Linked DNA regions of Homo sapiens: region 2 is linked to region 1. The links come from fine-mapping of genetic effects on gene expression. A gene starts in region 1. The other region holds a variant in brackets. All regions are shown on one strand. Distances are between the middles of the regions. Region 1 holds the start of KAT8 (lysine acetyltransferase 8). Region 2 has its middle 7.9 kb from the start of PRSS36.

Region 1 (5,259 bases):
GTTTCCAGAGTTCAGGGCCACACATCAGCTAACCTCACTGGTCCACCTCTGCCATTCTACTCAATCACTGCCACAACTGTGAGGTGGATCAGGTTGAGGCTGTTATTCTCATTTTACGAATGAGAAAATAACTGGCTGGGTGTGTGGCTCACACCTGTAATCCCAGTACTTCTGGAGGCCGAGATGGGCAGATCACTTGAGGCCAGGAGTTTGAGACCAGCCTGGTCAACATGGCAAAACCCCATCTGTACCAAAAAGACGAAAAAAAAAAAAGCCAGGCATGGTGGCACACACCTGTAATCCCAACTACTCGGGAGGCTGAGGCAGGAAAATTGCTTGAACCTGGGAGGCAAGGCTGAGGCAGGAGAATTGCTTGAACCCGGGAGGCAGAGGTTGCAGTGAGCCGAGATTGTACCACTGCACTGTGGCCTGGGTGACAAGAGCAAGACTCTGTCTCAAAAAAAAGAACCCCAAAAAACAGAACAAAACTGAGGCTTACCTAGGGTCACAGATTTGAAAAGTGGTAAGAGCTAATACTTAACTGAATTTAAGTCTGACTCTAAATTCAATGCTCATTTTACCACATACCCGCAGTTGTTCATTTGTTCAGGGATCATGAGTGCTGGCTCTGGATTAAGATAACCTACATTAATGTATAATTCCAGGGCTGGGCATCGTGGCTCACGCCTGTAATCCCAGCACTTTGGGAGGCCGAGGTGGGTGAATCACGAGGTTAAGAGGTCAAAACCATCCTGGCCAACATGGTGAAACTTCGTCTCTACTAAAAATACAAAAATTAGCTGGGTGTGGTGGCGCACAACTGTAGTCCCAGCTACTCAGGAGGTTGAGGCAGGAGAATCGCTTGAATCCGGGAGGCAGAGATCGCAGTGAGCCAAGATGGCGCCACTGCACTCCAGCCTGGCAACAGAGAGCGATTCCATCTCAAACAAACAAACAAAAAAAAATACACAAAATTCCAGCTCCCTACTTCCTAGCTATGTGTAACTGAGCAAGTTATTCCATCTTTCTGAGCCTCAGTCTCTTCATCTGTGAAAAGGGATAACAGCTGGGCACAGTGGCTCATGCCAGTAATCCCAACACTCTGAGAGGGTGAGGTGGGAGGATCACTTGAGCCTAGAAGGTCTAGGCTTCAGTGAGCTGTCATCGTGCCACGGCAATCCCACCTGGGTGACAGAGCGAGATCCTGTCTCAAAAAAAAAAAAAAAAAAAAAGACAAAAGGGATAATAGTACCAACCTTAGAAGGTGAATTAATGCCTCCAAAATTTTTAGCAGCGCACCTGACAATTAGCAGAGCATTCAATAAATGAGTAAGGCAACCACTACGTGTCTGGCCCTATGCTGTGTTGTTGCCGGGTACAGAGGACACAGTGATGAATCACAAGAAGTGCTGCCCTCCAGAAGTTCCCAGTATGATGGAGGAAGACAGAGAGAGAAAATTACAACATAATGTTACAAAAACTATGACTGAGGTAGGAAAAAAATGTTGCAGGAACATAGAGAAGGGAACCACTCACTTTGCCTGAAGGGGAATCAAGGATGACATCACAAAGGATATGAAGCTAAGAGGATGAGTAGGAGCTAGGCAGGCAAACAAGGAGAAAGGGAAGAAAAAGCATTCCAAGCAAAGGGCACAGGTGGTAAAGGGCGTGTGGTCTTCAGAGGGCACAGTGTGTTCTGGCCTGGCAATGCCCTTTCCTAGTGTTGGCTAGAAACTGGAGAGGTCACAAAAATGAATGCCACCCTAAGGAGTTTGGGGTTAATTTTGAAAATGAGAGAAGGCAGCAGAACTTTAGGAAAGGGAAGCCTGTTGTTTCTGGAAGGTCTTCTCTCTGCGGATGGCTGCCAGGGACAAATGGAAAAAGAAGACGCAGAGACAAGAGAGGGTGAGGAAGCAGCGTTAGCAAGAAAAAGGAATGAAGCCTAAGACTGGGCAAGGAAGTGGAATGGGAACAATCCTGGTGAAGGCCTGAGCGGTGGGTTTGTAGGCGTCGCTCGGCATAATTCAAGGTCAACAGCCTCCCACAACCCGGCTGGTTTCTCAGCGCCCGGAACGCGGCGTTCTTTCCTCAAGCCCCGCCCCTCCTCCTCTCCACTCCCAGCCCCCGGATCTTGGCCTCACTGACAGCCTGTCCTCAGGCCCCGCCCCACCCCCTGGCCCTGAGCTCCGCCCCGCCCCCAGCCCTGGGCCCCGCCCTCACGCCAGGTGCTATCCGGTCGCCGGCACAGGTACGTTTCTCCGATCTCCACCGTGACTTCCGGCTCGCCGCGCGCCGGGGTCGGCGGAGAGACGCGGCCCGGGGATGGGGCGGTCCCCTCAGCGGCCGCATTCTCCCCGGGCCCGGGCTCGCCCTCCCCCGCGACCCCTGAAGTCCCCGCCGCAACCGCCGCAGCAGCTCCCTGTGCCGCCATCGCGGGAAGGGAAGTGACGCCAGAATCGGACGCCACGCAGTTCTTTTGGCTCCGGGTCAGCAGTGCGTGGGGCGGGCTCCTCAAGGTTTGAGGGCGGGGTCTGTGATGTAGCAGGAGCCGATTGGCTTCTGTGGCCGTCCCCGCGGCCCCGCGAGTTGGATGTTGAGTGTGCGGCAGTCTTGGAGCTCCTGGTTTTCCGTGCGGACCTGTGGCTGCAGCCTATGGGTGAGGAGAGGAGACAGACTTACCTCATGCGATGACTCAACTCAACCTTTTTTTAATTTATTTATTTATTTATTTATTTATTTATTTTGAGACGGAATCATGCTCTGTCGCCCAGGCTGGAGTGCAGAGGCGCGATCTCGGCTCACTGCAACCTCCGCCTCCGGGTTCAAGCGATTCCTCTGCCTCAGCCTCCCGGGTAGCTGGGACTGCAGGCGCGCGCCACCACGCCCATCTAATTTTTGTATTTTTAGTAGAGACGGGGTTTCACCATGTTGTCCAGGATAGTCTTGATCTCTTGACCTCGTGATCTGCCAGCCTCAACCTCCCAAAGTGCTGGGATTATAGGCGTGAGCCACCGTGCCCGGCCAGCTGAACCTTTTTAAAGGCCCTGGTACCTGCGGAAGCCAAGATGTGCCAATTTTCAGCGGGCGCTGCCCCCACTTTAACAGGGCAGAGCCAGAGCGGCCGCCCTGGTGGCCTGGAGCCGCACACTCGCGCTGGCCTAATGTCGCTCCCCGCCCCCCCCCCTTTTTTTTTTTTGAGATGGAGTCTCGCTCTGTCGCCCAGGCTGGAGTGCAGTGACGCGATCTCGGCTCACTGCAGCCTCCGCCTCCCGGGTTCAAGCGATTCTCCTGCCTCAGCCTCCTGAATAGCTGGGATTACAATCGCGCGCCACCACGCCCGGCTATTTTTTGTATTTTTAGTAGAGAGAGGGCTTCACCCTGTTGGCCAGGCTGGTCTCGAACTCCTGACCTCAGGTGATCCGCCCGCCTCGGCCTCCCAAAGTGCTAGGGTTACAGGCGTGAGCCACCGTGCCCAGCCAGTGCCCCATTTTTGAAGGTTGAAGAGACTACTTCCCCTATTTGGGATACAGTTGGTGCGGGGAAAGCAGAACGGGTGTGTCCAGGGACAGGCCATAATTCACCCTCACAGGATAAAGTCTAAAGAAAGGACGAGTTGGGCGGGGCGTGGTGGCTCACGCCTGTAATCTCAGCACTTTGAGAGGCCGAGGCGGGCGGAGATCGAGACCATCCTGGCTAACACCGTGAAACTCCGTCTCTACTAAAAATACAAAATTTAGCCGGGCGTGGTGGCACGCACCTGTAGTCCCAGCTACTCGGGAGGCTGAGGCAGGAGAATCGCTTGAACCCGGGAGGCGGAGGTTGCAGTGAGCCGAGATCCCGCCATTGCACTCCAGCCTGGGGACCAAGAGCCAGACTCCATCTCAAAAAAAATAAAAAGGCCGGGTGCGGTGGTTCACGCCTGTAATCCCAGCACTTTGGGAGGCCTAGGCGGGTGGATCACGAGGTCAGAAGATCGAGACTATTCTGGCTAACACGATGAAACTCCGTCTCTACTAAAAAAAAATACAAAACAATTAGCCGGGCGTGGTGGCGGGCCCCTGTAGTCCCAGCTACTCGGGAGGCTGAGGCAGGAGAATGGTGTGAACCCGGGAGGTGGAGCTTGCAGTGAGCTGAGATCACGCCACTGCACTGAGGGTTCTGTGAGAGTCAGTAAAGGTTAAAGCCATTTATATGTGTATGGTCCAACCATACACAATCGGCCCTCCATATCCGCATGTCCCACCTTTGGAGATTGAACGAAGAGCGGGTTGAAAATACAGTGTTGAGGTATGGTGGCTCACACCTGTAATCTCGCACTTCAGGAATCCAAGCAGGAGGATCGCTTCAGGCCAGGAGTTCAAGACCAGCCTGGGCAGCATAGAGACCTCCTTTCTACTAAAAATTTGGGGGAAAAAAAAAATTAGCTGGGCCTCGGGGCCCGCACCTGTAGTCCCACCTACTCAGGAGGCTGAGGCAGAGGGATCGCTTAAACCCAGGAGGTCGAGGCTGAGTGAGCTATAATCCCTCCACTGCACTCCAGCTTGGGTGACAGAGACCCTGTCTCAAAAAAAAAGGGGGGAAAGAAAAGGAGGCTGGGCGCAGTGGCTCACTCCTGTAATCCCACCACTTTGGGAGGCCGAGGCAGGCAGATCACCTGAGGTCGGGAGTTCGAGACCAGCCTGACCAACATGGAGAAACCCCATCTCTACTAAAAATACAAAATTAGCCAGGCGTGGTGGCCGCATGCCTGTAATCCCAGCTACTCGGGAGGCTGAGGCAGGAGAACCGCTTGAACCTGGGAGGCAGAGGTTGTGGTGAGCTGAGATTGTGCCATTGCACTCCAGCCTGGGCAACAAGAGTGAAACTCTGCCTCAAAAAAAAAAAAAAAAAGACTGGGCGCGGTGGCTCACACCTGTAATCCCAGCACTTTGGGAGGCCGAAGCAGGTGGATTACTTGAGGTCAGGAGTTCAAAACCAGCTTGGCCCACATTGTGAAACCCCGTCTCTACTGAAAATACAAAACAGTCAGGGGTGGTGGCGTGTGCCTGTAATCCCAGCTACTTGGGAGGCTGAGGCAGGAGAACTGCTTGAACCCAGGAGGTGGAGGTTGCAGTGAGCCGAGATCGCGCCACTGCACTCCAACCTGGCCGACACAACAAGACTCCATCTCAAAAAAGAAAAAGAAAAAAGAGGGAGGAAGGGAGGAAAAGAAAAGGAAAGGAAAGGAAATATTGTAAGGATGCAGAACCCACAGATCTG
Region 2 (5,486 bases), 40 kb before region 1:
CCCATCCCATCCTGACCTCCTCTCTTGCCCCCAAGAGCTCTCCCGGACCCCATACAGTTTATGCAGGAGCACCCCAAAACTGCTCCCCTCAGAAGCAGGAGGACGTCTCTCTCCCAGCAATGAGCTGCCACCTCCTCAGACTCCAACTCGGATTGTTCTCTCTGTGTCTCAGGAACCACCCTCCAAATTGCATACAATGGCCAGGCACGGTGGCTCATGCCTGTCATCCCAGCACTTTGGGAGGCTGAGGCAGGTGGATAACCTGAGCTCAATAGTTCAAGACCAGCCTGGCCAACATAGTGAAACCCCGTCTCTACTAAAAATACAAAAATTAGGGCCAGGCACGGTGGCTCACACCTGTAATCCCAGCGCTTTGGGAGGCCAAGGTGGGCGGATCACCTGAGGTTGGGAGTTCGAGACCAACCTGGCCAACATGGAGAACCCCTGTCTCTGCTAAAAAATACAAAATTAGCTGGGCGTGGTGGCACATGCCTGTAATCCCAGCTACTCGGGAGGCTGGGGCAAGAATCACTTGAACCCGGGAGGCAGAGGTTGCGGTGAGCTGAGATCATGCCATTGCACTCCAGCCTGGGCGACACAGCGAGACTCCATCTCAAAAAAAAAAAAAAATTCTATACAGTGCATCTCACAAAGTGAGGTCCCTTTGAAGTAGGGCAACTCATTTGAGGCTAAAGCGCTGAGTCCTGGGGCAATCTCTGGCTCCGACAGGCTCAGGGTACCAGCATGGTCCCTGGAGACCAAGAGGTGGGTGGGGAGGTGGGGGCAGAGTCTGGGAGTGAAATTGAAGGAGCAGTTACTCTTCTTGCCACGAGAGGGAGCACCAAGGGGATGTCTTGATCATATCAGTCAAGCGTGGAGTCAACACACAACATGTTCCCAATTTTATCAAGTCTCTCAAATATTCCCACTCAGAGGGTCCCTCATAGAATAACATTCTAACTCCAAGTTTTTTCTGAGAACAAGTTATTTCTGGCCAGGCGAAGTGGCTCATGTTTGTAATCCCAACACTTTGGGAGGCCAAGGCGGGCAGATCTCCTGAGGTCAGGAGTTCAAGACCAGCCTGGCCAACAGGGTGAAACCCCGTCTCTAAAATACAAAATTGTAAAATACAATTTTGTATTTAAAATACAATACTCTATCGTATTTAAAATACTCCAGAATACAAAATTGTAAAAATACAAAATTAGCTGGGAGTGGTGGTATACACCTGTAATCCCAGCTACTGGGGAGGCTGAGGCAGGAAAATCACTTGAACCCAGGAGGTGGAGGTTGCAGTGAGCCAAGATCGTGCCATTGCACTCTAGCCTGGGCAACAAGAGCAAAACTCCGTCTCAAAAAAAAAAAAAGTTATTTCTTCCAAGCAGATATGCAACAATATAGTGACTTAGCAAGATAATATTATGGAATAGGGAACAGGGTTGCCAGGTTTAGCAAAAAATTTTATTTTACTCCTTTTTTATTTTACAAAAAAATTTTGTACAAACGGGGTCTATGTTACGTTGCCCAGGCTGGTCTCGAACTCCTAGACTCAAGTAATCCTCACACCTCAGCCTCCTGAAGTGCTGGGATTATAGGCATGAGCCACCACTCCCAACCAGATTTAGCAAATAAAATAAGTGCCCGATTAAATCTGAATTTCAGGTAAACACAAATAATTTTTTTTTAAGACAGGGTCTTGCTCTGTCACCCAGGCTGGAATGCAATGGTGCAATCATAGCTCACTGCAGTTTCGAACTCCTGGTCTCAAGTGATCCTCCTGCCTCAGCCTCCCAGACCACTGGGATTACAGACGTGAGCCCTGTGCCTATTGGAAACACAAATAATTTTTTTTTGAGATAGGGTCTGGTTCTGTTGCCCAGGCAGGAGTGCAGTGGCATGGCTCACTGCAACCTCTGCCTCCTGGGCTCAAGCCATCCTCCCACCTCAGCCTCCCAAGTAGCTCCCAAGTGCACACCACCACATCCAGCTATTTTTTTTTTTTTTTGAGACGGAGTCTCGCTCTGTCACCCAGGCTGGAATGCAGGGGCGCTATCTCAGCTCACTGCAAGCTCTGCCTCCTGGGTTCGCGACATTCTCCTGCCTCAGCCTCCCGAGTAACTGGGACTACAGGTGCCCGCCACCATGCCCGGCTAATTTTTTTGTATTTTCTTTTTAGCAGAGACGGGGTTTCACTGTGTTAGCCAGGATGGTCTCAATCTCCTGACCTCGTGATCCGCCCGCCTCAGCCTCCCAAAGTGCTGGGACCACAGGCTTGAGCCACCACGCCTGGCCCACATCCAGCTAATTTTTTAAAAAACTCTTTGTAGAGATGGGGTCTCACTATATTGCCCAGGCTGATCTTAAACTCCTGAGCTCAAGCAGTCCACCTGCCTCAGCCTCCCAAAGTGCTGGGATTACAGGTGTGAGCCACTTCACTTGGCCCGACAAATAATTTTCAATATAACTCAAGTATTTCCTGAGACCTAGTTATAGTAAAAAAAAAAAAAA[T/AT]CGTTTATCTCAAATTCAGACTGAGCTAAGTATTCTGTATTTTAGCAGGCACTCCAAAAGGAGTGACACGTGCTTTAAGAGTTTTATACACCAGCTGGGTGTGGTGGCTCACGCCTATAATCCCAGCACTTTGGGAGGCTGAGGCGGACAGATCACCTGAGGTCAGGAGTTGGAGACCAGCCTGCCCAACATGGCGAAACCCCATCGCTATTAAAAATACAAAAAAATTAGCCGGGCATGGTGGTGGACACCTGTAATCCTAGCTACTCAGGAGGCTGAGGCAGGAGAATCACTTGAACCCGGGAGGCAGAGGTTGCAGTAAGCTGAGATCGCAACACTGCACTCCAGCCTGGGGGACAAAAGCAAAACTCCGTCTCAAAAAAAAAAAGAGTTTTACAAACCAAATGTTTGCAGTGGCTGCGCTCACGCCTGTAATCCCAACACTTTAAGAGACTGAGACGGGTGGATCACTTGAGGTCAGGAGTTCAAGATTAGCCTGGCCAACATGATGAAACCCTGTCTCTACTAAAAATACAAAAATTCGCTGGGCATGATGGTGGGCACTTGTAATTCGAGCTACTTGGGAGGCTGAGGCAGGAGAATCACTTGAACCCAGGAGGCAAAGGCTGCAGTGAGTGGAGATTGCACCACTGCACCCCAGCCTGAGCAACAGAGTGAGACTCCGTCTCAAATAAAAAATGAAAATAAAATGCAGCTTTCTCTGTCATGGCACCCATTCTGGTGTGCATGAGGACAGACAGCCCAGATTATTTTTCGAGGAGACATGTGGCCCTGCCCACAGTATATTCCACAGAACAGCCCTGACCAGAAGTGGAGTGACTCCCAGCTTCTGGCTTCCTCTTTTCACGATGAGATGCGGCACTGCTGGGCTTCGCTGGTGTGGAGCGCGTGCGGCTGTGTGCTTGAGCTGTGAAACAGTCTTCTGCTCCCTCTGGTCAGCACCTTTGGAAAGTGTGGTGAGAGCAACAATACTATCAAGGATTATCTGAAGAATGCCTTTTTTTGTAGGTCAGTGATAACCAGACATTTTAGTGACAAAGCCAATTCAGAAAAAAAGTAACCTGTTACCAAAATCCTTTAAAAAACATGATCTCTTTTATCAGGAAACATAATATCAACATCTTTGGTTAAGCATGCTTTTCTTGTTTTTCCAAATGCTGAAGGGTTTCATTATTTTAGCTAAGCTTTCAGAAACAACATTACACACATGCCCTGGTGTTATCGGATGTAAAGCTGCACATTTTCCCAACGTTTTTGGTCCAGGAAAGCATTTCTGGAGCTAGTTCGTTTGGCTTTTTCTTAATTGACTCTGGAATCCATTTATTTGCAAAGTGTGTTTTGCCTCTTTTAATTTCTTTTTACTCATGTGGAATAACCATATAGTTTTTTTTTTCTTTCCTTCTTTCTTTCTTTTCTTTTCTTTTTTTTTTTTTTTTCTTTTTTGAGACAGAGTCTCGCTCTGTCACCCAGGCTGGAGTGTAGTGGTGCAATCATAGCTCGTTGCAGCCTCGACCTCCTGGGCTTAAGTGAACCTTCTACCTCAGCCCGAGTAGCTGGGACTACAGGTGCATGCCACCATGCCTGGCTAATTTTTATTTTATTTTATTTATTTTGGGGACGGAGTTTTGCTCTTGTTGTCCAGGCCGGAGTGTAATGGCACGATCTCAGCTCACTGCAACCTCTGCCTCCTGGATTCAAGTGATTCTCCTGTTTCAGCCTCCCAGGTAGCTGGGATTATAGTCATGCACCACCATGCCCAGCTAATTTTGTATTTTTTTTTTTTTTTTAGTAGAGACAGGGTTTCACTGTGTTGGTCAGGTTGGTCTTGAACTCCCAACCTCAGGGGATATACCCGCCTTGGCCCCACAAAGTGCTGGGATACAGGTGTAAACTTTTTTTTTTTTTTTTTTTTTTAGAGATGGGGTCTCATTATGCTGCCCAAGCTAGTCTCAAAACTCCTGGGCTCAAGAGATCCTCCCACCTCAGCATCTCTAGCTAAGTTCATAGAGAGTCCTGATCTTAAGGGTACGGCTCAGTGAAACTCTGCATGTGTATATTCCTGTGTATATACACACCTACATCAAGATCTAGAACTTTCTTGCACTCTAGCAAGTTTCTCTGTGCTCCTTCCCACATAATATAATACTTCCACCAGAAGCAACCACTATTCTGATTCCTTTTTTTTTTTTTTTTTTTTTTTGAGATGGAATCTTGCTCTGTCACCCAGGCTGGAGTGCAGTGGTGCTATCTCGGCTCACTGCAACCTCCGCTTCCCAGGTTCAAGCGATTCTTCTGCTTCAGCTTCCTGAGTAGCTGGGATTACAGGCATGTGCCACCACACCCGGCTAATTTTTGTGTTTTAGTAGAGACAGGGTTTCACTGTGTTGGCTAGGCTGGTCTTGAACTCCTGACCTCAAGTGATCCGCCTGCCTCAGCCTCCCAAAGTGCTGGGATTACAGGTGTGAGCCACCGTGTCCGGCCACTATTCTGACTTCTACCACTGGGGATTAGTTATGCTTGTTCCTAAATTGCATATAATTGGAATCATGCAATATGACACATATTTGTTGAAAAAAAAATCTGTAAGATTCATCCATGTTGTTGCAGATATCAGTAATTCATTCTTTTTTATTGCTGCATAGTATTTCAGTGTATGACTATGCCACAATTTATCAATTTTCCTGGGGCCGGACATTTATGTTCTGGATCTTGGCTCTTGTATCTAGACCTTCTATGAGTGCCATGCTCTGCATATGCCTTATGGCACCCTCATTTCTCTTAGGTCTATACCTAGGATCTTGATTGTTGGGTCAAAATACAGGCATATGTTTAGCTTTCGTCTATTCTGCCAGTTATCTTTTCTTAATTTTTATTTTTAGGAATAGAGATGAAGTTTTCACTATGTTTTCCAGGCTGGTCTCAAGCTCCTGAGCTCAAGTGATGCTCTCGCCTCAGCC

What was found. PIP is the estimated chance that this variant, and not a neighbour inherited with it, causes the effect.
Region 2: its variant is fine-mapped to the expression of KAT8 in fibroblasts (GENCORD, PIP 0.93).

What each region holds. Positions count from the first base shown.
Region 1 is chr16:31,114,854-31,120,112 of GRCh38, reverse strand. KAT8 (lysine acetyltransferase 8) reads right to left here and starts at 2,449. Exons shown (of 11, transcript NM_032188.3): 1 at 2,221-2,449. The coding sequence starts at 2,431. It also overlaps a transcript of BCKDK not described here. RefSeq lists an enhancer at 1,866-1,985 and silencers at 2,156-2,505, 2,405-2,631.
Region 2 is chr16:31,155,204-31,160,689 of GRCh38, reverse strand. No RefSeq gene overlaps it. Among named protein-coding and RNA genes, the nearest start is that of PRSS36, 7.9 kb to the right of the region's middle. The variant T/AT (reference allele first, on the strand shown) is at 2,509.